Linked DNA regions of Homo sapiens. The protein of the gene in region 4 purifies or fractionates together with the protein of the main gene of each other region. This does not show direct contact. Each region holds a gene or a part of one and is shown on either strand. Other genes may lie near its edges.

The links.
Region 1: the proteins of DNAJC5B (region 4) and VAMP7 purify together in Homo sapiens (affinity purification with mass spectrometry; one large-scale study listed by BioGRID and IntAct). This does not show direct contact.
Region 2: the proteins of DNAJC5B (region 4) and NUCB1 purify together in Homo sapiens (affinity purification with mass spectrometry, with the first as the bait; one large-scale study listed by BioGRID). This does not show direct contact.
Region 3: the proteins of DNAJC5B (region 4) and DNAJC7 purify together in Homo sapiens (affinity purification with mass spectrometry, with the first as the bait; one large-scale study listed by BioGRID). This does not show direct contact.
Region 5: the proteins of DNAJC5B (region 4) and IFITM1 purify together in Homo sapiens (affinity purification with mass spectrometry; one large-scale study listed by BioGRID and IntAct). This does not show direct contact.
Region 6: the proteins of DNAJC5B (region 4) and ZDHHC13 purify together in Homo sapiens (affinity purification with mass spectrometry; one large-scale study listed by BioGRID and IntAct). This does not show direct contact.
Region 7: the proteins of DNAJC5B (region 4) and LEMD3 purify together in Homo sapiens (affinity purification with mass spectrometry; one large-scale study listed by BioGRID and IntAct). This does not show direct contact.

Annotation. Positions count from the first base shown.
Region 1 is NC_000023.11:155,936,475-155,940,673, reverse strand, and holds part of VAMP7 (vesicle-associated membrane protein 7), read right to left. Parts: intron 974-4,199; coding exon 881-973; intron 1-880. UniProt on the Homo sapiens protein: Involved in the targeting and/or fusion of transport vesicles to their target membrane during transport of proteins from the early endosome to the lysosome. Required for heterotypic fusion of late endosomes with lysosomes and homotypic lysosomal fusion.
Region 2 is NC_000019.10:48,906,331-48,910,529, reverse strand, and holds part of NUCB1 (nucleobindin-1 precursor), read right to left. Parts: intron 1-4,199. UniProt on the Homo sapiens protein: Major calcium-binding protein of the Golgi which may have a role in calcium homeostasis. Acts as a non-receptor guanine nucleotide exchange factor which binds to and activates alpha subunits of guanine nucleotide-binding proteins (G proteins).
Region 3 is NC_000017.11:41,986,060-41,990,258, reverse strand, and holds part of DNAJC7 (dnaJ homolog subfamily C member 7), read left to right. Parts: intron 1-701; coding exon 702-855; intron 856-1,362; coding exon 1,363-1,527; intron 1,528-2,348; coding exon 2,349-2,440; intron 2,441-2,564; exon of another isoform or gene 2,565-2,664; intron 2,665-4,199. UniProt on the Homo sapiens protein: Acts as a co-chaperone regulating the molecular chaperones HSP70 and HSP90 in folding of steroid receptors, such as the glucocorticoid receptor and the progesterone receptor.
Region 4 is NC_000008.11:66,097,743-66,101,941, forward strand, and holds the end of DNAJC5B (dnaJ homolog subfamily C member 5B), read left to right. Parts: intron 1-2,194; coding exon 2,195-2,289; 3' UTR 2,290-3,503; downstream 3,504-4,199.
Region 5 is NC_000011.10:312,414-316,316, reverse strand, and holds IFITM1 (interferon-induced transmembrane protein 1), read right to left. Parts: upstream 2,278-3,903; 5' UTR 2,147-2,277; coding exon 1,961-2,146; intron 1,396-1,960; coding exon 1,204-1,395; 3' UTR 1,045-1,203; downstream 1-1,044.
Region 6 is NC_000011.10:19,161,785-19,165,983, reverse strand, and holds part of ZDHHC13 (palmitoyltransferase ZDHHC13), read right to left. Parts: intron 2,682-4,199; coding exon 2,557-2,681; intron 1,684-2,556; coding exon 1,621-1,683; intron 933-1,620; coding exon 839-932; exon of another isoform or gene 837-838; intron 1-836. UniProt on the Homo sapiens protein: Palmitoyltransferase that could catalyze the addition of palmitate onto various protein substrates. Palmitoyltransferase for HTT and GAD2. May play a role in Mg(2+) transport.
Region 7 is NC_000012.12:65,245,181-65,249,016, reverse strand, and holds the end of LEMD3 (inner nuclear membrane protein Man1), read right to left. Parts: intron 3,349-3,836; coding exon 3,243-3,348; intron 3,157-3,242; coding exon 3,078-3,156; intron 2,856-3,077; coding exon 2,692-2,855; 3' UTR 662-2,691; downstream 1-661.

The DNA.
Region 1 (4,199 bases), on a different chromosome or scaffold from region 4:
CCTTTTCGCAAAGATTGATATTGCATTTAGAGCTGTGCTCTGCATGTAATAAGTAATCAGTAAATATATTCTGAATTTAACAATTCAGCTGCACAAATCAACCTAAACTCCCAGACCAAATAATAAGTAAGAAGCTAAGCTCAGGAGCCTAAAATGTGATATTAGAAAGAGAAACCTGAGCAAGGAACCATTCAAGGCCATGACAATTACTTCCAGTATAAAATCTACAGATCTATGACTGCTCTTCTCTTTTAGATAAATCCAGCTGTCTAAGGCAGAGGACCCTCAAGCTGTGGTAGAGGAGAAGCAGGGTCAGAGTTATCTGCTTGGAGGTAACTTTGGGCTTCTGGACATGACTGGAGGATGGGGAGGAAAGGCAACTTTATCTGACCATGAACAGGGTAAAGCACCCCCCACCTGTTAGCAATAGTTTTTAAAGTTGTGGTTTAGGACCTCTTTACACACTCAAAAATTACTGAGGACTCCAAAGAGTTCTTGTTTAAGGGGGATTATAATTATCAGCATTTGCCATATTAGAAATTAAAACTTTAAAAATACATAATTAATTTAAAAATAAAAACAATAAACCCATTACATATAAACCAGAAATGTCTTTATTTAAAATAACTACATTTCTGTGAGGTCAGTTTTATAGATCTCTTCCTATTGAGAATATATAATAATTCTCAATAGGAAGGAGGGGTTTAAGTAGAGATATTTCATAGTGACTTCATAGGAAAGCCACTGCCTGGTCATGTGTTTCACTATTAAAAGACATATGTAGCTCATTTCAGAGTGTTAATCATTGAGAAATAATTCTAGTACCTAATTTCTTAGAGATTGAAAAATAAAGCCATACACTAAAAGGACAAAAACTTACAATTGATACGATGATGATGATAATAGTGAGCTTGAGGTTCTTCATACACATGGCTCGAGCAAGATTTCTGCTGGTAGTTTTGAAGGTGACAGACTAGAAAAGAGGCGAGAATTGTTTAACCCCTGGCACTGACTACATGAATGATTTGCAGTAACAACCTGAGAACATTTTACTTCCATTAATTCCATTTAAGTCCAATGACCTCTCTTTACAAGTAGAGACTGGCCATTCATACTCAATAGTTGCCAAAAGCAAGACTCTGCCAGGCCTATCATAAGCAGTATGAGCCCAATGAAAACGCTTCCCTCTTTTTTCTTCTCCACTGCAGCAATGCACATGATGTTGAGCACCAGAAGTGGTTCTTCCCGCTAGTGGAAAAGAATTTTCCTCTCTATACTTCCAATAAGAAAGGCTCTTTTAAAGCCAGCTGACTGCAAGCACATTCGCCTATTCTGCCCCGTATAATTCCGGGGCTTTGAGCCATAAAAACCTGTTTGATTTCTGTAGGAAGATATGTATTTACTTTTGTGAGGGCCAAAACCCATAGAACTTCATTCCTTCTGCTATCCATTTTCTTTTGCATCATCAATTTCTCAGTATCTACTGAACAATTCCCACCAGGACACAAGGAGTTTAAAACAAAATGGCAAACAACCAACCAACAAAACTCCCTAATAATCCAGCAATCCACTCTGGTATGGTCCCACAGATGTATGCAAATTCACCAAAAGACATATAAAAAAATGTTTTGGACAGCACTACTTTTCATACCTTAAACTGGAAACCACCCAAATGCCCATCAACTGTGCAATGCATAAATTACAGGAGAGTCATAACATGGAATACAATACAGTAATGACAATTCACAATCTACTACTACATTTATACAATTTACCACAGATGAATCTCACAAACATCATTTTGAGCAATAGAAACTTGACATAAACAGAATACCTGCTATATTTTATTATTTATCTTGAGACAGGGTCTTGCTCTGTCGCCCAAGCTGGAGTGCAGTGGCACAATTACGACTCACTGCAGCTTTGACCTCCTGGGCTCAAACGATCCTCCCACCTCAGCCTCCTGAGTAGCTGGGACTATAGGTGTGTGCCACCACTCTCGGCCCCTGCTATGTTTTATTAATCTATGTGGAGAAATCAGGACAGTGGCCACCTTTGGAGAAGAGTAGTGACTAAAAGAAGGGAGAAGGGAGCTTCTGGGGTACTGTTCGTGCTCTAGTTCTTAATCTGGGTGTTGGTTCTACATGGTATGTTTACTTTGTGAAAACACAACAAGTTGTATGCTTACAGTTGATGCACTTTATGTATATTATACTTCACATATTGGTTTTAAAAAATCCACTCCCTTAACCATAGATTCATCTCCAACCACATACTCCACAAAGTCTCTGCAGTAGAACAACTGACAGGGGCACCAGTCTTTGGGTTTCACTTCATGAAGACTGCACAGGATGCCACCTGGAGGCACATACCAAAACTGATTACATCTAGAGCTAAATATATATGTTGAATAGAATATATGCATTGACTAGAACTTTTGAGAAGAAACAGCAGTTAAAGTGAGGAGACAAAAAAAGCAATGGGGACAAACAGTCCTTAATGGAACAAAGTTAATATGGGAAACAAGATAGAATAACAGTAATAAAAAAATTTCTAATAAGTATCCTCAGATACAAGACATAATTGAACTAATTTTAAACAAAGTCATCAGAGGACATAAAAAATTAGATAACATGACAACATTCCAAAAACTATATTTTAATAAAATGGCATAATTTTTTAAAAGCAGAACATAAATGAGCAAAAGCAGCTTCTGCAGTAACAATTCAAAAAATTTGTTCTGAAAACAGCAAAATGTCTAGGTTGTAAATCATGAAAGAAGATGTAAGATACACGGAAAACTGATCAAGCAAATCCAGGATCAATTTATACGATCAACAGATATTTAACATGTGCTTATTATGTGCCTGGTACTGATTTACACACCTATTAGCAGTCACAGGAGAGAATACAGCCAAAAGAGAAGGATCAATAATCAAGGGACTAATTGAAGAAAATATCCCCCAAATAAGACAGACTTGAATCTTCAGACTAAAAGGACCTACCCACCATGTGGCAAGAATATTGAAAAAAGGAAAATGTTACACTTTTAGTAACATTTCAGACCTCCAAGCTTTTGTTTCTACTCTAATTTTATTTTTTTCTGCCTTGAAGTATAATTGGCAAATAAAAATGGTATATATTCAAGGTATACAATGTGATATTCTGATAAATGTACACATTGTGAAATTATTACCACAATCAAGCTAAGTAAAATATCCATCACCTCACATAGTTACTTTTTTGGGTATGTGGTGAGAATGCTTAAGATCTATTCTTATAGCATATTTCAAATATTCAATACATTATTATTAACTATAGTTGCCATGCTGTATGTCCGGTATCCAGAACTTATTCATCTTACAACTGTAAGTTCATACACTTTGACCAACATCTCTCCAGGTCTCCCACCCACTGTCAACCACTGTTTTACTCTCTGCTTTTATGAACTGAACATTTTTTTTAGATTCCATATATAAGTGAAATCATACAGTATTTATCTATCTGTGTCTAGTATATTTCACTTAATATAATGTCTTCTAGTTTCATCCACATTTTAGAATTTTTTTTTCTATTCTGTGAAAAATGCCATTGGAATTTCAATAGGGATTGTGTTGAATCTGTGTATTGCTTCAGGCAGTATGAACATTTTAATAATATTGATTCTTCCAATCCATAAACATAAGGTATCTTTCCATTGATTTGTGTCTTCTTGAATTTCTTTCATCAATGTTTTATAATTTTCAGTGTGCACATTATTACATCCTTGGTTAAATTTATTCCTAACTATTGTACTCTTTTTGATGCTATCATAAATGGGATTTTTAAAAAATTTCCTTTGATTCCTGTTCCAAGATGGCCAAATAGGAACAGCTCCAGTCTACAGCCCCCAGCGTGAGCAACGCACAAGACGGATGATTTCTGCATTTCCAACTGAGATACCGGCTTCATCTCACTGGGGCTTGTTGGACAGTGGGTGCAGCCCACCGAGCGTGAGCCGAAGCAGGGCGAGACATCGCCTCACCCGGGAAGCACAAGGGGTCAGGGAATTCCCTTTCCTAGCCAAGGGAAGCTGTGACAGATGGCACCTGGAAAATCGGATCACTCCCACCCTAATACTGCGCTTTTCCAACGGTCTTAGCAAACAGCACACCAGGAGATTATATCCCGCGCCTGGCTCAGAGGGTCCCACACCCACG
Region 2 (4,199 bases), on a different chromosome or scaffold from region 4:
AGTAGAAACAGAAACAGGGTTTCACCATGTTGGCCAGGCTGGTCTTGAACTCCTGACCTCAGGTGATCCACCCACCTCGGCCTCCCAAAGTGTTGTGATTACAGGTGTGAGCCACCACGCCCAGCCTCAACCACTCTTTAAAAAAAACAAACAAGGCTGGGTGCGGTGGCTCACGCCTGTAATCCCAGCACTTTGGGAGGCCAAGGGGGGCGGATCACAAGATCAAGAGATTGAGACCATCCTGGCCAACATGGTGAAACCCCATCTCTAATAAAAACATAAAAAATTAGCTGGGCATGGTGGTGCGCACCTGTAGCCCCAGCTACTTGGGAGGCTGAGGCAGGGGAATCACTGGAACCTGGGAGGCGGAGGTTGCAGTGAGCCGAGATCACGCCACTGCACCAGCCTGGTGACAGAGTGAGACTCCGTCTGAAAAATAAATAAATAAAATAAATACATACATACAAACAAAAGAAAAACATCAAAATTTTTGATAAAGCATCAACCAATCTTAGGGGTTAAATTGCACGCTCCTAAGTTTCTATGTTGAAGTCCTAAGCCCCAGTACCTCAGAATGTGACCTGATTTGGAGACTAGGTCTTTACAGAGGGAATCAGGTTAAGATGAGGTCATTACTGTGGGCCCTAATCCAACATGATTGGTGACCTTATAAAAGGCAGAAATTTATGACTGGGCACAGTGGCTCATGCCTGTAATCCCAGCACTTTGGGAGACTGAGGTGGGAGGATCACTTGGGCTCAGGCATTCGAGACCAGCGTGGGCAACATGGTGAAACCCCATCTCTACAAAAAATATAAAAATTAGCTGTGTGCAGTGGTGTGTGCCTGTAGTCCCAGCTGCTCAGGAGGCTAAGGCAGGAGAATCACTTGAGCGTGGGAGGGGGAGGATGCAGTGAGCCGAGATCGCACCACTGCACTCTAGCCTGGAGGATAGAAGTGAAACCCTGTCTCAAAATAATAATAGGCCGGGCGCGGTGGCTCACACCTGTAATCCTAGCACTTTGGGAGGCCAAGGCGGGTGGATCACCTGAGGTCAGGAATTCGAAACCAGCCTGCCCAACATGGCAAAACTCCATCTGTACTAAAAATACAAAATTATCCAGGCGTGGTGGCGCGTGCTTGTAATCCCAGCTACTTAGGAGTCTGAGGCAGGAGAATCGCTTGAACCTGGGAGGCAGAGGTTGCAGTGAGCTGAGATCGCGCCACCGCACTCCAGCCTGGGCAACGAGAGCAAAACTCTGTCTTGGAAAAAAAAAAAAATAATAATAATAATAATTAATAAAAAATAATAATGGAAGGAGAAATTTGGGCCAGGCACACAGAGAGGAAAGATGGTGTGAAAATGCAGTGAGAAGACGGCCATCTGCAAGCCAAGGAGAGGGGCCTGGTACAGATCCTCCCTCATAGCCCCAGAAGGAACCAACCCTGCCAATACTTTCACTTTGGACTCTGACTGCAGGCCATGAGACAGTCAAGTTCTGTTGCTGAAGCACCTGGTCAGTGGTACTTGGTTACAGCGGCCTCAGCAAACAAGTGCAGCCTCCCTCATATGGGAGTTTCCAAGTAGTCAGGAAGGGGTAGGGTTTCCAGGCAGGAAAGGACAGCGCACACGCTGCCAACACACACTTACCGCACGCATGTCTCCCGAGGCTTCTAGGGGCCCAGGCCTGCGCTGTGCAATGCTGGACCCAAAATGAATCAGCCTGGCCCTGGCCTCCAGTGGCCCTTGGTTAGGTGGGGAGAAAGACACACACACACACACACACACACACACACACACACACACACCCCTTGGTCAAGTGGGCAGAAAGACACACACACACACACACACACACACACACACACACACACACACACACACGGGCAGCTAGAATTTGGGAGACCTAGGCTGCAGTGGAGGCAGCTCCGGCCCTGGCTGAGCCCAGAGGAGTGACAGGTGTGCAGGACACAGGTACAAACTGAATCTCAAATTCATTATTTGTGCCAGGGACGTGTGTTGAGCCGCTATTCCAGGCTGACCCAGCGCCGGCCGCTATGGACACAGCAGGAATCAAATGATGACAGAATTCTGACTCTTGGAGGCCAGGCGGGGTGGCTCATGCCTGTAATCTCAGCAATTTGGGAGGCTGAGGCGGGTGGATCACCTGAGGTCAGGAGTTTGAGACCAGCCTGGCCAACATGGTGAAACCCTGTCTCTACTAAAGATACAAAATTAGCCAGGTATGGTGGCGGGCACCTGTAATCCCAGATACTCAGGAGGCTGAGGCAGGAGAATCGCTTGAACCTGGGAGGCAGAGGTTGCAGTGAGCCGAGATCGCGCCACTGCACTCCAGCCTGGGCGACAGAGTGAGACTCTGTCTCAAAAACAACAACAACCAAAAGAGTTCTGCCTCTTGGAGCACCCAGTCTAGAGAGACAGAGAACAGGCGACCAAGGGATGAACAAAGGAATACCAAGGACACAAATAACACAGAGGCTCCTTCACACAGGACAGCCGGGGCGGTGACACCCTGAGGAGGTGACATTCCAGGGGAGATGGAAGGTCCATGGACCAGGCAAAGAGCCCTGAGAAAGAATGTCACGGGAGAGCGGGGCGAACGGACAAAGGTCCCAAGGCTGCACGCCAGCAATTTCTAAAAATGCTGACGCAAGAAGGTCAGGGTGCATACGGGAAGGGCAGGGTTGGGCGGGTGTGGCCAAGGTCCACCCAGGCTCCGAGCAGACAAGAGGAACATGAATGCGGGCCTGAGGGCACTGGGGTGCCGGGGGCAGGCTCTGGGCAGAGGAGGGACGGGAAGAGCCTGGGTGTTGTGGCAGCTGGATACTGGTGCCCTAAAAGATATCCACATCCTGATCCCCGGAACCTGTGAATGCGTGACCTTTCCGGGCTAAGGGGTCCTGGCGGATGGGATTACATTAAAGACCTTAAGATGGGGGCCAAGGCTGGTGGCTCAGGCCTGTAATCCCAGCACTTTGGAAGGCCGAGACAGGAGGATCACTTGAAGTCAGGAGTTCAAGACCAGCCTGGCCAACATGGCAAAATCAAGTATCTACTAAAAATACAAAATTAGCCAGGTGTGGTGGCACACACCTGTAATCCCAGCTACTTGGGAGGCTGAGGCAGGAGAATTGCTTGAACCCAGGAGGCGGAGGTTGCAGTGAGCCGAGATCGCGCCACTGTAGTGCAGCCTGGGAGACAGAGCAAGATTCTGTCTCACCAAAAAAAAAAAAAAAAAAGGCCAGGCGCGGTGGCTCACACCTGTAATCCCAGCACTTTGGGAGGCCGAGGTGGGCGGATCACGAGGTTAGAGATCAAGACCATCCTGGCTAATACAGTGAAATTCCGTCTCTACTAAAAATACAAAAAATTAGCTGGGCATGGTGGCGGGCGCCTGTAGTCCCAGCTACTTGGGAGGCTGAGGCACAAGAATGGCGTGAATCCAGGAGGCGGAGCTTGCAGTGAGCCGAGATTGCACCACTGCACTCCAGCCTGGGTGACAGAGCGAGACTCTGTCTCAAAAAAAAAAAAAGAAAGATATTAGCTGAGCAAGGAAAAACAGTGTGACCTGATAAATCTCCCGATTTTATCGCTGTACTTATGCAAGAGTATCACACTGAAATGTGTAAGGGTGATGAGATGGTGACTGTGGTGAAGTCCCAAACGTGAGTGACAAAGCAAATGGAGCAAATGTTAACTAGAGAAGCCAGGTCAGGGGTGTTTGGGAGTTTTCTGTACTACTCTTACAACTTTTCTAAAAGTTTGAAGTTCTTTCAACTTTTTTTTTTTGAGATGGGATCTTGTTCTGTCGCCCAGGCTGGAGTACAGTGGCGCAGTCATGGCTCACTATAGCCTTGACATCCCAGGCTCAACGATCCTCCCACCTCAGCTTCCTAAGGAGGTGGGACCACAGGCATGCATTACCATGCCCAGCTTATTTTTTAATATTTTTTATAGAGACAGGGGTCTTGCTATGTTGCCCAGGCTGGTTTTGAACTTCTGGGCTCGAGTGATTCTCCTGCCTCAAAAAGTGTTGGAATTGCAGGCGTGAGCCACTGCACCCGGCCTCTACCAGAATTTTAAATGACAATTTTTTTTTTTTTTTTTTGAGTCAGAGTTTCACTCTGTTGTCCAGGCTGGAGTGCAATGGTGCGATCTCGGCTCACTACAACCTCCGCCTC
Region 3 (4,199 bases), on a different chromosome or scaffold from region 4:
CAGTCAGGCTAGCTGGACATTAAAATGCCAGATACCATTGGACTGATGGTGTCCGGCAGCTTCACCACAGGATATGGTCCCCAGAGTAGGCCAGCTAGGGCTGATCAGACCCTCTTGGGACTTAAAGTCAAAGATTAGACCAGCTTTGAAAACCCGTAGGGTATACAGGAGTATAGTAGTATAGCAGGTACTTGAGCTATATATGAAAGAACAGATTGTGTTTTTGTGGTTTTGTTTGTTTGTTTAAGGTAGTCCTTTTCCTTCTACTCCACTGGTTGGCACACTTTCTGCAAAGGGCCAGATTTTAGCCTTTGCAGGCCACAGGGTCTCTGTTGCAACTAACTCAACTCTGCCATTGCAGTGCAAAGGTTGCCCTAGATAATAGATGAACCAATGGGTGTGGCTGTTTGAATAGTGTTTTATTTACAAAAACCAGTGGCAGAAAGGATTTGGCCCTGTGGGCTGTAGTTTGCCAAACCCTGTTCTAGTTTAATAAGGATTGTAAGACACAAGATGTGTATTAAAGATAATTATAGGTGGTTTATTTGGGGAAAGTTTGGGAACAGTTCTTGGGAATCTGTCTACCTTTGGATATTTTGAATGCTAGACACATGGTCAAGGAGGAAAACTGGCCACAAATGGTAGTAATGGTGGGGACATTCTAAAGCACAGCTCAATGTGCCCTTTTCTGACTATTGCAGTGACATTCTACGAATGGATTCCACCAATGCAGATGCTCTGTATGTACGAGGTCTTTGCCTTTATTACGAAGATTGTATTGAGAAGGCAGTTCAGTTTTTCGTACAGGCTCTCAGGATGGCTCCTGACCACGAGAAGGCCTGCATTGCCTGCAGAGTAAGTTCTAGTCACCAGACCTAACTGGGAAAGAGCTTCCTTTTGGGACCTTTAAGATGGCTAGAGTGGAAGGTTTTAGAATCACAAGGAATGTGATAGCTTTTCCTCCTGCTTTGCAAGGATGCTTGGTCTTTATTAGAAATGGTTTCAGGACTACTTGTATTTACCTAAAGGTAGATGTGATCATATAGGGTCGGATGCCTTTAATATCTAAGAGGGTTTTTTTGTTTTGTTTTTCCCCTCAGTGAAGATAGATAGTAATACTTGTCCTGAGAAGTGAAGGCAGACCCAGTAACATAGGTCTCATTGGTATTTTTGGTAACTCTTTTCCTGTCCACTCTGTAGGAAGCTCAAATGAGCAACAGATAGCCCAGATTGGGGGTTGGCGGGGCTCTGTGATGCTGAACTGCTGGAAGCAAAGAACTTGAAAATAGAGTCTGGCCTCTCTGTGCAATGGTCTGAGGCTTTGTGGATATGAACCGATCCTCCCCTTGCTTTTTTCTGTAGAATGCCAAAGCACTCAAAGCAAAGAAAGAAGATGGGAATAAAGCATTTAAGGAAGGAAATTACAAACTAGCATATGAACTGTACACAGAAGCCCTGGGGATAGACCCCAACAATATAAAAACAAATGCTAAACTCTACTGTAATCGGGGTACGGTTAATTCCAAGGTAAGCTCTTGATCTAGATCTTGGGGCCTATAGAAATATTTTTAAGGGACATCAAAGGGTCTTGGGAAATCTGCCTAGTGAGGGTAAGCAAGATGAAAGAGGGAAAGTTGTTATGGTTAATAGTTTGTTAGGAACTCCCTTCCAAGAGGCAAGCTTTTGTCATCTCTATGGAATTTGAGGGCAGTTGGACAATTTGCAAGGATATTCTCACCTGTTCATTAAGGTCCCTTTCCTCCAGTAAGAGAATGGCTAGGGTCTGTGGGATAATCTTAAGCACCTACTGTTGCTTTTTTGTTGTTTTGCTTATGCAAGTGATCATTTATTTTTTAGGAGTGATTTGGAGGAAGAGTATGAGGCAAGCTTGTTTTTCTCCAGTGTAATTGATGGTCACCATGCATGGTTGAAAATGGCCTGAGTGCTTTTGTGGCCCTACCCAACATCAGAAACAAAAAGTAGACTCCTTGCCCTTGCAGAATTCTAGCAGTTAAAAATCAGAGTGATTTCTGATCCCTGCAGGTGACCTCTGGAAAAAAGGAGGGCAGGAACCAGCCTTACTATTTTCATGTTTTCATTGGGCACTAACATGGAATGGTAAAGGTAGTTTATCCTTGAAGACAGATGTGCCTGGCTTGTATCATATACAAGAGAAATCAATTTTGAAGTTGCTGTCCATAGCCCTGGTGACAAAGAACTAGAACTTAATATGACATTTAAGGGGCCAGCATGACTGATCCTCTTAGAGTTTTGAAGCCATGCTCACAGCTTCTGGGCTCCCTCAGTCACCAAAGGTGTGAAGTATGATTGCTCTCTCTCTCCTGAAGCTTAGGAAACTAGATGATGCAATAGAAGACTGCACAAATGCAGTGAAGCTTGATGACACTTACATAAAAGCCTACTTGAGAAGAGCTCAGTGGTAAGTGCCTCTGATGGGTAGGGGGAAGAGGGAGTTGCCGCTGGCCTCAGGGGAATTGCCTTGTGGATGACGAAGCAGACCCAGAGATGTTGTGAGGTCATTTGGTCCTTCCCCCTGCCTCTAGGTGGGATTGTTCCAGCCCTAGACTATCTTTATAGACCTCCAGCGGAGGAGATTGCACAAGCTCCCTCAGTCTCCCATGCCTGTGTCTAACGCCCCTCACGGTCAGTAAGTTTCCTCTGATGCCTGACCCAAATTCCTTTTGTTAAAAAGTTTAAATCCATTTCCTTTGGAGATTTTATTTTGTGTTGTACACTTATGCTCTACCCTGGCACAGTGCTTGACACATAGGTGCTCACTGAATAAATGTTTTGTTGAATGAATGTATGGTGCTTGGAAGAGAAAACAACTCTTGGAGACAGTTGAGAGTTGTACTTCATCCTGTTTGTTCTGGGCGAGGGAAGACAATCTTAGAGTTGGAAGAGATGTAATCCGGCTCAGCCTCCCAGGATAAAGGAACTTCCTTTTGAAACACCCTGGATGGCTACTCTCTGCTTGAGTGTTTTGAGTGGAGGGCACTCTGTGTCTGACAGGGTGATTATGAGCCAGGATGTGCCTACCTCTAATGCTCACATTTGCCCCAGAGTCAGGGTGCTCCCTGGCATGGTTGCTCCTCTTACTCTTAGACCCACCAGCTGGTTTTCTCCAGATAGGAACAGGGCTAGGAGAAATCTTTCTCAGAAATCCATCTCTTCTGATTTCAGATTATTCTCTAGGCGGAGAAAAACTTCCCGTCTTTAAAGTTCTTAGAGAAGATGTATTTATTGTATACTAATCCTCCAGCACCTGCTCCACTCCTTATTATAAAATGTCATATCCAAAGAACAGATGCTGTCACTGATGCCTGATGAGCCAGTAGTTTAAGCTTCCTTGTCTCATCAGTGGTACAGAATATCTCATGGACTACCTCCCACTTAGTTTTCTCAAAATTATCTCACTTAAAATAGGAAAACTGCTGCTGTGTGTGATGCTTTTTTTAAAAGTGAATTTCTAAGTTGATGACTAAGTCTGTCCAACAGAAACATACAGGGAATTATAACTTCTGTGAGACTGACTGTCAGTCATTCCATCTTTGCAAACCACTGGCACACAGAAGCAGAAGCTTTGGAAGACAAAAAAAGCACCCTTTGATTCAGCCAAAGACTGACTTTAACAGACGCAAAATGCTATATACATGAAGGTGTTTGCTGCAATTTTATCTATAATAGCAAAAAAAAAAAAAAAAAAAGGCGGGGGGAGAATCACCTACATGTCCAGTGGGAAGGGGGTGGCTAGATACTTGATACTGTATGAACTTAATGGAATGCTCTGTATATGGAATGCCAGGGGATGGGAAGAGAAGAGAAAAATCGCTTTGTTTTATTTTTTGGGATGGAGTCTCGCTATGTCGCTCGGGATGGAGTCTCGCTATGTCGCTCAGGCTGGAGTGCAGTAGCACCGTACTGGCTCACTGCAACCTCCACCTCCTGAGTTCAAGCGAATTTCCTGCTTCAGCCTCCGAAGTAGCTGAGATTACCGGCGCATGTCACCACACCCAGCAAATTTTTGTATTTTTATTGGAGATGGGGTTTCATCATGTTGGCCAGGCTGTTCTCAAACTCCTGATGACAAGTGATCTGCCTGTCTTGGCCTCCCAAAGTTCTGGAATTACCAGCAGGTGTGAGCCACCGCGCCCGGCCTTTTTTTTTTTTTTTTTTTT
Region 4 (4,199 bases):
ATATTGGAGACATAGTTTCAATATGTTTTAGCTTCACAGTTTTTTTAGCTCCATAGTTTTAGCTTCCATATTTGCTATTGAGAAGTAAGATTGCTTTTAATATCCTTGTCTTTTCTTTTTTTTTGAGACGGAGTTTCGCTCTTGTCACCCAGGCTGGAGTGCAGTGGCACAATCTTGGCTCACTGCAACCTCCACCTCCTGGGTTCAAGCGATTCTCCTGCCCCAGCCTCCCAAATAGCTGGGCTTACAGGCACCTGCCACCAGGCCTGGCTAATCTTTTTCTGTACTTTTAGTAGAGACGGGGTTTCACCACATTGGCCAGGCTGGTTTTGAACTCCTGACCTCAGGTGATCTGCCTGCCTCGGCCTCCCAAAGTGCTGGGATTACAGGCGTGAGCCACTGCACCCAGCCCAAAATCTTTATCTTTTGTTCTGCAATGTGACTAAGATGTTTTAAATATGATTTTTTTGTTTTTCTTTGAGACAGAGTCTCACTCTGTCACCAGGCTGGAGTGCAGTGGCGTGATCTTAGCTCATTGCAACCTCTGCCTCCTGGGTTCAAGCAATTCTCCTTGCCTCAGCCTCCTGAATACTGGGACCACAGGTGTGTGCCACCACGCCCAGCTAATTTTTGGATTTTCAGTAGAGACAGAGTTTCACCATGTTGGCCAGGATGGTCTTGATCTCCTGACCTCATGATCCACCTGCTTCGGCCTCCAAAAGTGCTGGGATTACAGGAGTAAGCCACTGCACTCTTTAATTTATCCTGGCTTGTTCTTGGATCTATGGATTGGTGTATTTCATCAATTCTAGAATAGGCTCAGCCATCAAATCTTCAAATATTGTCTCTCTTTTTTTTTTCTTTCTGAAAGTTATGTTAGATATGTTAGACCTTATAATTCTATCCATCATGTCCTTTGACCTCTTTTATATTTTCTCTTTGTCTCTCTTAAATTTTGGATAATCTCTTCCAATCTGTCTTCTACTTCACTAATTCTTTCTTTAGCTGTTAAGCCAATTCATGAAGGTTTTTTCCATGTTTTAATCTCCAGAAATTCTGTTTAAAATTTTTATGATCTATTATTTTACTTAATTTATTTAATTACTTTTAAAACATAATTCTTTTGTATTCTGTGTCTGATAAAAGCAGTTATTGAAGTCTTTCTGGGTCTGATTTAGCCTTCTGCTGTTTATATTGGATCTTAGCATGCATTGTTTCCATATGTAATCTCTGTCTCTCTGTCTGTCTCTCTCTGTCTCTCTCTCTCTCTCTAATTCTCTGTCTCTCTCTCTGTCACACACACACACACACACACACACACAACTTCTATTTCTCTACCTCTAATAGTTTTTATTATGAGCTCATGTTTCTTGCAATTTTATAATGATATTTTGAGGCCTAGGTTGAAGGTGAGGTCATTCACTTTTGCTAAGTGCTTGAGAGCACATCTTGCACTGGACCTCTTTAAACTAAATTATCATCTTGAGGTTTCTCAGAACACAGAGGTATTGAAAACTTGGTCTGCCAACTTGTGTATTCATTGGCTTGCCATTGAACATTTTTGGGGCAGCTTTCTCAACTCAGCACCCAAATCAAAGGCTAACAAATCTCTCTGTAGATTTAGGAGTAGATTTAGTGATTTTAGAGAAAGCATAACCATTTTGGGCACTAGCTTTATGTGAGGAGATTTCTATTAGACTCTCCCTCTAAGCAAACTCTCAGTTTTGACTCCTGTCCCAACAAGGGCCAGTCATCCAATTGTACACTACATAATGCCAGGGTGCATCTTTCATATAAACTATACCTTTCCTGTAGATATACGTTGTAGTCTATATGAAAGGTGCCCTTTGATAATGTTCAGTTTCCAATCTGCACAACTGTATATGATGGTTCTGTCTGTATTCCCACAAGATGGTGAAAACTAAAGTTCAAGTTCACCAGGTTCAGCAAGTGCCCTCCAGGTGAAAGCTGGGTTTGGTGCTTTGGTTTTATAATTCCATAACTGACAAAATTTGAATAGAGTAAAGACAGTGCCTCCTCCCTTTCGAAGTCCTTAAAATGGTAGGTATATTGATATCTTATGAATTGAGTTGATTTGCCAGTCATGAATTCAACAAAAATACCTATCACTTGCTTCATTAAAAGAACTGTAACATGATGAGAGTGTTTATTGCTTTGCTTTGTTTATTTTTAGATGTGGACTTTCCAGTTTTTCTCCAGCCTACAAATGCAAATGAGAAAACACAGCTAATCAAAGAAGGATCTCGAAGTTATTGCACAGACTCTTGATATTGAGCCCTCAGAGAGTCCACAGTCCCTCCTCTCAGTTCAGTCTTGTCTCCAGATGGTCGTAGGGGAGCGTGTGGGGCATAAAGTGCTGTGAACTTTTCCATCTTGTTGTTTTATTTTTGGGTTAGGAAAACATGATTGCTATATAATTTTCTCAGTATGCAGACTTTCTCTCTGAGTAGAATTTCTTATGAAACACATTCAATTTGGGTGAATAAAGGCCTGAAGAGTTATTTTACCCTCCTTGCCTGATGTAGGACAGTGGAATTGTACAGCCTTTATGAACCTGCCCTTTATGTGTGGCAGATCTGATTCCTAACTGACCAAAGTAATATTCCAGAACAAAAGCCACTTTTCTTACATTTAACACAATATTCATATCTACCACGAACATGATCATCAAAATATATGAGAACTTATAAAGAGTTTTTGTGTGTGGAGCCTCTTCCGTGTCAATATTCAATAAAGTTATAGAAATGTTTCAAGAGCCAGAAAGGGATGATTTTTTTTTAAATCACATTTTTAAGGTATATTTTTGGAACATTAAAAATTGGCATTTACTGAAAACTGGAAACCAGGAAGAAACAGGTTTTGTGTGTACTTTTAGATTGGCTTAAAAACAAAACAAAACAAAACTTCAACCTGGTTAAATGTTGTAAGTGAACCAGAAAATCATTCTGAGCCTGAACCCGCCCCATCAGCATGTTGATCATTTTCTAGTAAAATAATTTTTGTATAACTGGCTCAGATTAGCCAGACTAAGGGAAAAAAAACAGATGAAGGGGTAGAACTCTATACTCTAGAGCCTAAATTTACACCAAAACATGTATCACCTCATTTTTGTTAAAATTAGTTGCCTTGACCAGAAATTGCTCAGCTCTGTGCATGTTACACAATTTAAGCCCAGAGGTCATCTCTGCATTTGCTTGTTTGATTCTTGTATTTATTATGTGGTAGAAACCATGTGCTATTTCTAAAATACTATGGCAGAAAAAGTGTTCGTTTTTCTAGCTCTTTCTTACTTTTTTATATAATATTGCATTTTCAAGATCTTGTTATGTTTTTATATAATATTGTATAAAATGCCTTTATCTTTTTTCTTGTTTCTTATTCCCACCCAAAAAATTATAGTTAATTGCTGCTAAATATATATTGTAAGTGAGAATTAGTGTTATAGCTCTGATAGTTCTGAGGTCATTAAAATTCCACTCTAACTCTTTAGTTACTGAAATTCTTTTTCTAGGCAATCAAGTAGACAGAGCCTTGGTTTGAAAGCTAAGAAACCTGGTTCTAATCTAAGCTTTCATTAACTAGCCTTGTGACCAAGTGAGATGAAAATAACATGGCTAATCTCTCTATGGCTCTGTTTTCATATCTGCCCTGACCACCTTCCAAGTTGCTGGATGACCAGATAAAATGGCTGAAGTGAAAGAAATCTGAAAAGTCAAATGTTCAACAAATGTAAGGTGGTTTTAAATGAATTTGTATATGTTGACGCACACAGACAAATGTACTATGACTCTTGATGCATATAAACTCTCTCACCCAACAAGACCCATGGAGACACCCAGTATTAACAGCTCCAGTAACCAGCAAGTGCTTGGAACGCTGTATTCAACAAACAAATGCTACTTTCCATTTGGAGGAAACAATAGGATAAATAGCGCAATCTGTGGATAATTTGAGCCATTCCATTTCCTTCCTGTGGCCTTTTTAAGCAAAAGGTCAGGTCTATTTTGAAAAGCAACTTACAAATTACAAAGCTCACCTTCTCTTTCTTGCCCAGACCTCATTTTCCTTTCTCACATGGAATTTTTTGCTTCCACTCCTAGTTCCCCAGGAAGCTGGTCCAAGAGTGGTTAAGATGAGAACAGGACATGGATCAGAATCAGAATCAGATGGTAGAATCA
Region 5 (3,903 bases), on a different chromosome or scaffold from region 4:
CTTGGGCTCGGCGTCCTACCCGTCCCTCCCAGGAGGGTTTCTCCCGCTGTGAACGCACCGCGCGTGGCCGCATTCTCCCGACAGAGAGCACCTGCGCCGTGCCTGGTCTTGCCCTTTTCCAGAGCCCGCGGCCGGAGTCTCCCCTGCAGAGGAGGAGAGGCCCAAGGCCGCTGCGGGCCTGGCACGGGCTGCTGTCCACGGGCACCCGAGGAGTCCGCGGCGAGGAGCGGCCAGGCCGACCAGCTCTGCTCCCGCGGGTGCCGTCTGGGAAACTTCTCGGCTCCCGCCTCTCACCTCCCCGCGGCCCGCGCACCCCCGACGCCCGTGGGGACCGGGATCTGGCCGCGCTGCTGGGCCGTGGCGAGCTGGCGTTCGGCGCCCGGGACCCACGACGCGCCCTGCGTCTCCGACTTCGTGATGCCTCGGACTTCCCGTCACATTTCAAGACTGCGGGATCCCGGGGCCCTCGCTGGCTGCACCAGAGGGGTCTCCACCTGGCGGGACCCTCTTCCCGAGCTCCCGCGGGGCTCCCGGTCGGAAGCTGCCCTCCCAGGCCCTCGCGAGCGCCCCACCCTCGGGCCATTGGCTGCCCCCACCCCAGGGGAGCAGGGAAGATGCCGGCTGGACTGGAGGAGGCAGCTGCTAGGATCCAGCACACCTGGATCACCCAGGAGAGGCTGCAGCCCTGAGGTTCCTTCAGCTGCTACCCTAGGAACAAAGCCCCTGCCCCTCCCACAGGGCCTAAGGTGCACACATCTGCAAGACCAGCTGCCCAGCCAGCTCAGAGGCAGGTTGTCCTGGCCCAAAGGTATTCTGGACAGTGTGTCCTTACCTTGGTGTCAGAGAAATGCCCACCCCACGTTCCTGGTCCAGATGCTGCCCACAGCAGGAGGCGGAAACCAGCAGATTCTGAGCATATCCCTGCTCCCCTGAGAGCTTCACAGAGGAGGGATACGGCTGTGCAGGGGCTGAGCACTGGGCTGTCTCAGGACTAGGCCGGGACCCCTCAGCAGGGCCCCCACTCCAGATGAAGTCACAGCATCATCACAAGCACGTGCACTTTATTGAATGACACTGTAGACAGGTGTGTGGGTATAAACTGCTGTATCTAGGGGCAGGACCAAGGGGGCAGGGGCAACAGCCCCAGCGTGCAGGGCCAGCATTGCACAGTGGAGTGCAAAGGTTGCAGGCTATGGGCGGCTACTAGTAACCCCGTTTTTCCTGTATTATCTGTAACATAATATGGTAGACTGTCACAGAGCCGAATACCAGTAACAGGATGAATCCAATGGTCATGAGGATGCCCAGAATCAGGGCCCAGATGTTCAGGCACTTGGCGGTGGAGGCATAGGCCTGGGCCCCGGTCACGTCGCCAACCATCTTCCTGTCCCTAGACTGGGGGAGAGGAGATGGTGAGGGGACCAGGATCCCCCAGCTGAGAGCCGCGTGCTATGGCTCCGTCTCCTCCCCGCCCTGAGATCAGGGACCACCTCCTCCCCTTCCTCACCCGGGCTCAGACTCTCCAGGAGCCTCGGGGCTCATCCTCCTTCTGCCTTGGCCCCAGCACAGGCTGTTCTCCCCACCATGGGGTGAAGTCACCTGTGAGTTCCCTTCTCACTTTCTGGGAGAGCCTGGGTGCCAGTCTGGAAGGTGAGGGTGTAATTTCTTACTGGGCTATAGGGAGAATTGCTCTGGGCTAATGGATAGCCAGGGACAGACTCTGAGCCAGCCAGCCAGCCTCCTGGAGCCTCCTCCTAGACCTGCACTGGGCAGATTCCCCAAAGCCACACACACACACAGATCACACAGACAAAGCTACTGACGTGAGCACACACGGGGCAGAGGTGCACACAAACTCACAGTCACAGGGACACACAAGTCCCCACCCCAGGCAGCATGTGGGCAGGTGGAGCCCCAGGCTCACCGGCACCCCCTGGATTTCCGCCAGGGCCATACGCACCTTCACGGAGTAGGCGAATGCTATGAAGCCCAGACAGCACCAGTTCAAGAAGAGGGTGTTGAACAGGGACCAGACGACATGGTCGGGCACGGAGGTCTCGCTGTGGATGTTGATCACGGTGGACCTTGGAAGGATGGTGCTGGGGGGTGGCCCCAGCACAGCCACCTCATGTTCCTCCTTGTGCATCTTCTGGCTTTGGGGAAGGAAGTGTTGAGTGAAGGTTTGAGAAGTGTGGTTTTCTGCGTGGAGCGAAGGGCCGCTGTGGTGTCCGGATGCTGGGACGGTGCTCAGTGAGACCTCCTTTCCCCTGTCGTTTCAGTTTCTCAGAAGTGTGTATTTCTCTTAAGTTTCTATTTCCTGCTGTTTGTAAATTGGTGAATTAGCCAGGGACCAATGAGGTGTGGTTTAACTTCTTGAGGATCAAATTACTTTATGGCAGGGTGGGAGGAAAGGCTGAAGGCTAAGGAGAGAGGCTTCCTCATCAGAAACTCAAGTCAGGACTAGTGACTTCCTAAGTGTTGGGTTTAGGGGGCCCTGGGGATTTTACCCAGGCTTGGGTTCTGTCCACCCCAGGCCAGCAAGTACAGGACCTCACTGTCCCGGTTCAGGGCCCCTGCCAGGCCCCCACACTCCAGGCGCCAGGACAATCCCCCAAAAGCCCTCACCTCACTTGTCGCAGGCCTCTCTCCTGAAATCCTTGCTCTTTCCTCAGGCTGCAGTCCTGCTCTGTGCGGGTTTGGGGACTAAACCTCCCAGTGTCTCCTGGTGCAGGTCAGAGGCCTGGTGGCCAAAGTTTCCTGCCCCAAAGCAGCCCTCCAGGCCCAGGAACGGGGACTCTGGGGAGAACTGACTCCCCAGAGGGTAGTGTGTTGAGACACGGGGAGGATTCCAGGGCCTGTAGGGGCAGCTTCAGAGCACAGGGCACACATGTGCCACCCCCTACCTTCCGGGTCCCAGCAATTCCCATGGCTTTGGTTGGGGTGAGTGCTGGATGACCTAGGCGTTGGGTCCTAGCCATGCAGGAGAGACCTGGAGGGTTGGCAAAGCCAAGTCTGGGGCTGTCAGGCCTGGGTGCCCCTTCACAGGGACGGGGAATTGTAGACTGAGTAGCAGAAGGGAGCCCTCAGGCACAAGGATCATGAATTACAAATTGCAAATTACATAAAGGAAAAATCAGAGCCCAAAGGTGGGCCTGCAATTATTAATGTAATGTTCTTAAGTTCTCTTTCTGCTTTCGTTTCTGCCTGCTTTAAGTCTGCTGTTACTTTTCTACAGAGATAAAATCCACTGTTTGCATCCAACCATTTCTTTTTATTGTTTGTGTAAACCAATGAATTTGTATTACTATCTCATGGCTGGAGTTCTGAAGTAAAACCATACTTTTGCTTGAGTGTGTATGTGTGTATATGTGCACATACACATATTTCGTTATGTGTTTTTGGCCACAAGTTACCAAATTTAGCTTAAACTTAAAGAGTACTCATAAATTAAATAATAAGCCTAAATGCTTTTCACGTTCATGTGACTTAAGTAGAATCTTTAATAAGCTAGCTTTAAAATTACTGGTAACGTTAGAAATTGTAGCAGGACGAGCCACAGACAAAACCCTCAGACATCGAGTTGAGGAAAGAAAGGGCTTTATTTGGCCTTTATTCGGCCAGGAGCATCAGCAGACTTAACATCTCAAACACCGAGCTCCAAAACCATCAGCCCCTCCCTACCCATTGCAGCTAAAAAAAAAAAAAAAGAACTAGCCCTTGCCCTTGCTTGGAGTCCCTGCTGGGCCTCCCCAAATCGCACACCAACCCCCCCACCCTCCACCCACCCCTCAACAGGCCGCCTCCAGCCCCAGCCACATCCCAGGCCACTTAGACCAAACTATGTCTGGGTCCCGGCAAGCCAGGGGTGGATGTGGATGGAGCGTGCTCTGAGACATCGAGGAC
Region 6 (4,199 bases), on a different chromosome or scaffold from region 4:
ATTTGGACAAATCATACCCTGTCTCTTTCTTCCTTCCATGCAACATGTTTGTAAAAGTGCAACTTCTGGAATAGAATAAAGTTAACTAAGCAAACACTTTTCTAGCTAGGCTGTCCTATCCTGTGACAGAAGTAAGGGAACCAGGCGGGATTTTGGACAAATCATACCCAGTATCTTTCCTCCTTCCATGTAACATGTTTGTAAAAGCACCACCTCTGAATATCAAGGATTGACTTAATCAGGGGGAACACAGAAAACGAAACTGAGGAGCAGCAACAAATTTACATGTTGCTACTGGACATGCAAAGAGTGGCAACCCACAATCTGAGAAACTTCTACAGAAGGGAAGAAAGCGGGAAGGGCAAGGCAGCTAAGTCTTCTCTTGCACACGCTGCCTTCTCAATGCTGGAGATGGGAGCATTTCAATGCTAATGACACAAATACTCCTCAGCTACTACATCATGGTCCGACCTTCTCCTGGAGCAGCAAAACCCGGCAGAAGGAACAACACCCATTGGAATCAGGAGACCTAGGCTTATGTATTACTAGTTGTGTCACTGTAAGTTAAGTGTTTTAACTTCTCTGATCTAGCGTTTTTACAAGTAATATGGAGATAATATTTTTTCTGTCTACTTCACAGGCCTGTGGCTACCAAACAGAATGATGCATGTGCAAATATTATGTTACCTGTAGCATAATAACGATGCATGGGCCCATTGCTATTGGAATACTAGAATATTGAAAATGGAGCCCTAGGATGCCCTTCCACTTTTTCTGTGAGTCATAACTAAACATATGCTTAACTTCACAGTAGTAATTGAAAAATTAAATCTCTCACCTATGCACCGTCCAGTCCACAGGCAGTGTTGATCATATCGAGCCACACAGCAGTTGCATACATGGCAGTGGAGTGACCTTAATGGCTTCCTTATCTAAGTGGGCAATTAAGAGAGGCCTAAGCAAAAACCAGTGTCTCAAAGTGGTAACAAATCACAAGCAAAATTTTAACTTTAGGTCACAGAGGCATTGGCACAAATCCTAAACAGACCATCAATTCACACAGAGGCTGTGGAATGCCTTATTAGTATTTACTTCCATATGTCTACTTTGATTAGGACATCACTAAGTGGGATCTGAATTCCAGAGCCTGTTCACACTGGCTAAGCAGAAATGAGGCAGTACCACAGAGCAAAATAAGCACTCAACCAAGGGAAGGAAACCCAAGTTCCATTTTTAGCACCACCAATAATTTGGGAGAATTTACTTCCTCCCTTGATTCCTCAATTGCAAAATGAGAGGTTTCACTAAGTGGTTTCTAAGGTCATTATGAGCCTCTGATTTGACGTTAGTTCTAATATATGCTTCATGACAGAGAAAAGCAAATAAAACACACAATGGATAATTCACGGAGAGATGTAACCAGAGACAACTTCAAGAGATTATAAACATCATTCTGCCATATGTTCAAGACAGAAAGCTGTTCAGACAGGAATGTAAAATTAGAAATGGGTAAAAACAAAGGTGTATAAATATACCATGAAGATCTGACAAATGCTTACATCAGCAACGTTACCAAGACTTTGCTTTCACTACGGAAAAAAATTATATGAAAAAACTCACAAGACATGATGTACAAAATGTTCTGAAGTCCAGAGAGCCAGTTTCTGCAAGGGTGATGATATTCTGAAAGACATGAAGTTTGACCTATTACCACATTTTATTGGAAAATGTATTATGCATGGTTATACACCATTCTCACAGTTCTCGCTCCAAACTGAAGTAGTTAGAAAAGCAATTTGGAATACTTGCCACCAAATCATTCTGTGCTTGAAATGATGTGACTCTTCAAGGTTGCATTTTCAACCAACAGCTAATAAATTAGGATGCATAAAAATTATACCACCCCACCACTCCCACCTATCACCTCATCTCTGTGAATGGCAATCATCTCCCAGTTATGATCTGCTAGAGAAAAATAAATATGCAAATATACACACACATTAAAAAAGAAAAACCCACCAGTATACATCAAAACTGAAAGTTACAAGCACCAAGGGCTGGGTCTTTCAGGAACACTGGCTTTAGGTAACAAAGACAACATTCTCCAACTTCTAAACATTCATGAGCAACGGAAAACATGCCATGTCATCTGACAACTTCACATTTGAGGAGGAGGAGGGGCATCTCCTCAGCCAATAAGCAGAAGGACTCTCCCTGGTCACTGACTAGTTACTCTCCATTTATTTAGTGGGGAAATGTAAGCTAAATGACCATTATGAAAATGTTATTACAAGGAAGTAGGAGATCATATTCCTAAAAGGAATCACATCTGAAAAAGTCTTGGTGGGGTATTATTTCAACAGAAAATAAAAATATGTGTTAAAACTTTCATATACATAAATGAAAAAACTGTAAGAGTGGAAATCTAATTTTTGCTATATCACCCCACATGTCATGCAGCCGTAACAAAAAGCAACACATCTGCATATGTGCATATAAACTTTCTAAAGTTTACAAACCCTCCTATTAAAAATATCAGTAACGAAGAAATCTCACCACTTTCTTTTCTTCTTCAGAAGCCTTAGTGAAGCCTGGATCAGTTGCCCAAGTCTTATAGAAAAAGTATAGAAAGGCTACTATGCTGAAAATGAAACTGAAATAGAAAGGGGCTCCTGCTAAATGTTAAAGCCAAGTTAAGGAATACACCAAACTTCCTTTAAAAATAATGTAATTATGATGTAAGCAAATTTCATCATTGGCACCTAAGAATCTCACCTTCCTTATGCACACATGTCCCTGCCCCTAAATCTCTTCCCATCCTATGTTCTAATCCTACTGGAATTTGTTCCCACTTGGCTAATAATTAATGTTTCCTTATTAGTTGAAGCTCATATTAAATACTTGATAGGAATAGTTGCAACTTATGAGGAACATCCTGAAAAGTGACACTCAAGACCAAATAAATTTATCTCTAATGGTGTAATTGTGGCTCTCCTGTGAGCATCTAGAAAAATATTCTTTGATCATTTTAACAAAATCATTCAAAGAAACAACCCTCTTGATTCAGAGATTCCAAATAAAAGTATTTCCCTATATATTAGATACATGTTTGCAGAAAGACACTATTAAAGGTACATAGGGCAAGATCCTTTGTGAAAGAATCACATCATAATTTCTTTATGAAATCCTGATCGACACACGACTCAAAATATATACGTTCAGTTCTCAAAAATACGTTCAGTTTCATAATGCAATGATCCTGCACGCTGAGCTGACTGAATTTTCGGCTCCTATTTTGATTAACTTACAAAACAAATGGCAGGGGAATCATTGGATCACCACTCTCCAAGTAAAGTGAATTACACCCTATCACCTCACATAGAAGCTGAAGACACTCCTTGCTTTGGTGCTCTTGCCTGTGTGGTTCACTGACCTAAAATGTCCCCTACTTCCTCTCATTTTCTTCTAAAACCACACTTTTAGGGTATCCAAGTCTTAACTGCGATTAAAACCTAACTTATATTTTCCCTCCTTCCTTGCAATCTTTTCTGATTCCCTGGAGAGAATCATACTCTCCCTTCCCTGAATTTAAGAATGCTTTATCTAAGGCACTCAGATGTGGACTATAGTTTATAGACACACAGCCTTCCCAGTAAGCTGGTAACACTTTTGCAGTTAAGTCTCTCAATATGGAGCTAAAATTTGCCTTTCTATAACTTCAACCAACTGATTTTCATTCATTAGATCCTTTAGATCTGCACAGTAGCTGTCTTTTAGATCTAACCTACATAAGCTTATCCCCTCATTGGTTCAATACATTTTTACTGAGTGCCCATTCTACATAGTGCATTGGCTTCCAAATGATAGACTTCCAAACACTTGAAATTGGAAGACAGTGATCATACCTCCAAGATAAACAGCAACACTGTCCTTATATAACATTTTCCTGGTCATGTTCCTCTGTTCATGCTCCCATTTGTCATTCTCTCTTTTAAAAGGATATAATTCAAAACAGAGCAAACACCAGTGTAGAGGACAGAGAAGCTGCTGTTGTCTTTTGCTTGGACACTCAAATCCTTGTAATACTATGTGAGAATATACTTGCTTTCTTGACAGCTGCATCACTAGCCACACTGAGCATTTAGTCACAGCGCCTCGTTCCTTTGCACTTGACCAGAAGCTATGTCATAGCTCACCAT
Region 7 (3,836 bases), on a different chromosome or scaffold from region 4:
CTGTTGCCTCACCTGCCCTGAGGTCTTCTCTCTATATTAAGATGCATAAGGTGCCTTTCTTTACTCCCAGAGTTCCTCTGCCTGTTTTGCTCTCACTGTACTTTCCACATTATCTTTTATCTGCTCTGTGTTCTTCCTCTAGACTGTGACCATCTTGAGGATTCGGTCATGTGTTTTTCATCTTTGTATCCCTAACACATAACAGTACTTGGCATTTGTTAGTAATCAATAAGTGTACCACATGACTGACTAGTCTTCTTTTTACTTAACATATCAAAAAGTCTAAACCAATGCTATGTAAAGTAACTAGCCTATGAACTGTTAATAGTTTATAATGCAATAGAATTCAAGTCAGAATGTTAAAAGAAAAAGAAATGCTTCCTTTTTAAGAAAGTCTTGCTGTGAAAAAGTATCTAGCAGAACTAATGCTTTGTGATGTAGCTGATTGACATTCTTGCCCCATTTTGGTTCAAATACTTGAAAGTTGGATGAAGACATTTTCATAAGGAAAAATAAAATGCTGAGGGGAAGGATAGTTAAAATTAACTTTATGGTCTTCATTCATCTTTATAAGCACAAATATTCAGGCTGTCAAACATTTAAACTAAAGACACCTATTTTCACTGGTAAAAAAATAAATACAGACACAGGGCACTTAAAATGTTTTTAAAAAGCCAAGACACATAAAAAAAAACTAATAAATTTTTAATTAGAATTTTTTCCTTTTTTTAACAGGACAAGTAACAGATTACATCAAACTTCAGAACTTCTCAAATACCTAGTTATTATACACATTCCCATCTGTCTTGCAGGGAGGGATCTTGGTCGGCTTAACAGTTTCAGGTAAAATAAGCTGCATAATAGTATATATTACAATAATAAATGTACAATGTTTACATGAAATATGTTTTAGAAGCAAGAAAAAGATGCATCTGCATCAAAGGCGACCTTTTAAAATGCCACAACTATTTTTTACATTCACTCTTGCAACAGGTTACAAGATGGGGGTCACTAAGCTCAGATAAATCACTATGATGCACATAAAATACAGGAAGACTGGTTACTTTATATATTATATATATTTATATTTTCACACGTTAGCATCTGAGACATAAACTGAGAATTTAAAATTTATTCTCTTCAGATAACAAATCATTTTTTATTCTTCATAAACAAGGTGCCCACAAAAGCACACAGGTAAGGCACAATAGGGCTTTCTGTTACAGAATAGTGTGCATCATGTTTACTTAACCAGAAAACGTGCATTATCTGTGCAAGTTCATGCTGCAAACCCAACGCATACAATAAAACAAAAAGGAAACTGAGCTTTAAATACAACCAAAATTTGTACAATTCCAGCTGTTTCACATATTCATTTGGACTGACAATTATATATCAACAGGTTATTTTTAAAAAGCCAATTGTAGATTACAAGTAAAATTTACTCAGCAACTATTTTTATCTGAAATCATAAACAGTAATAAAGTAAGTTTACTGAAACAAATTAAATACTGAGGCACAAAGCAACAGTCAATCGTGCATTTACTATATTGCAAACTTTCATGACCCAAAATTGCAAGTATAATTTGTCAAATACACATTTTGCTGCAACAATGTGCCCTGCTTTAAACTTGACATATAACAGAGGCACTAACATATCATTAAATTATAAATAGATTGGGAAAATGACTTAACCCCAATGGTACTATGTCATGGCCCTAGTATTTATAATAAATACAGCTTTTCACAAAATATTTTTCCAATATCTGCCAATTTCTTCTTTATTGCTCACATAAATTTGACTCTATTACAACTGGTATCAGAACTTTCACACAAAATCATACTCAGACATTTTTATATAAAACCTATAAAAGATATTTTAAACTTGTATCTAATACTTCCAGGTGTTTGGCTGTTTGATCTATGCAAAAGTACAGCCATATGTATATATCTCTGTGTGTGTATATATATACATCTATATATACACACACATACACACATACATATATACACACACATTAGATTATGAATAAAATGGAAAGCTTATTTTACTGCTTTAATGCAGACATCCTCATAAAACAAGACTACTTTCACCACCACCAGCATTTATACATATATACAAAGCCAGTTTAAGTACATATACATCCACTTACACATATTTGTAACCACTAAGCCCAAATTAATTTTCCCATATTCCAGCCGTAGCAAATGAATCGCTTATAAGCAACAGAAACCTAAGGTTAAATTGGGAAATCAACAGTTTTACCACATTAGCCTGTAGGAACTATGCAGGTGACTGTATACAAAAATTCACAACATTAGTTCACAAGAAATTATGGGACTACAAGAAGCCTTTTCATCATGCTTTTGTGTGGTTATCCAAACACTTCTTGGGGCAAAAATACAACCACCACATCTGAAAATGCTTAATAAAGTCAGTGTTCCTCATGCAAAACTTTAAATGTATTGGCTTAACTGAGCTCCAAAAACTGAATGAAATAATTATCCTACCTACTCAGCATTGCTGCCTCACTGCTAAATCCCTTTGGAACCTTAAGACTTCTGGAACGTTCAGAGATGTATTCATCAATAAAAATATTACATACAAAAAGCATTTAAAAAGGAAGACAAAAAGCCAAACAGGAATTTTCCTATTGTAAATAACAGTCTTAGAAATGGAAGAAAATCTTTTCAGGAACTTCCTTGAGAATTGGTTAGGCCAGTCCGAAGACGAAGATGAGACATGGAGTTCATATGTTTATTTGATGGCTTCAATGGAGTGTTGGAAGTGAGAGCCTGGGGAAAGCGATGGTGGTATCTATCTAGTCGTAAATATTTTACTGTAACCAATTTCCCTGTTGTAAGATAAAAATAATATTTTAGATCAGTAAAACTGTTTAATATTTGCAGAAAATTAACTGTGGTAAAAGACATATGAGCACAAAACATAAATAAAGTCATCTAAAATTATTACTCAAAAAAATGCTAACCTAAATTCTTTTATTTGAAATCTGGTATAGTTTAAAATTAAACTATAACTATCTTTTCAAAATGTTTGTAGTACTCAAATTTCTTACCATCAAACCAAGAGCCATGCAATGCTTTAAAAGCCTTTCCAGCATATTCTGGAGACAGACATTTAACATATACACAACCCTGTGATATTAAAAAAGAAAGAAAATAGTCTTAGTTTAATAGCAACAAATCCAAAACATGAAATTCAATACCAAAAGTTACTTTACCTCACGTGAATTTTTGTCTACTGCAATGTGAACAATGCCATCATTATCACTGCATTTTTCTAAAATTGCTTCTTGAATTGCCAAATGCCACTGATCCCCTATTTCCCTAAAAGTTAATGAAAACAAAAATCAACAACCATATTCCTACTCGGTAAAAATTCTTCACTGTCTCTTACAACATATATATATTACTAGAATTGGTATAGTTTTAAAACCACATACGATTTTAATTGGTATTAAGTAAATGCTTGTTGACTAACAGGAGGTAGATTTAAAAATTACAATTCAGAAGTCTCAGCCCTCCTCCCACTTTCCAGTAAAAGAGTGCAGAGCGCTGGCCAGGCGCGGTGGCTCATGCCTGTAATCCCAGCACTTTGAGAGGCCGAGGCAGGCGGATCATGAGGTCAGGAGATCGAGACCATCCTGACTAACACGGTGAAACCCCGTCTCTACTAAAAATACAAAAAAAAAAAAAAATTAGCCAGGCGTGGTGGCAGGTGTCTGTAGTCCCAGCTACTCGGGAGGCTGAGGCAGGAGAATGGCGTGAACCTGGGAGGCAGAGCTTGCAGTGAGCCGAGATCACGCCACTGCACT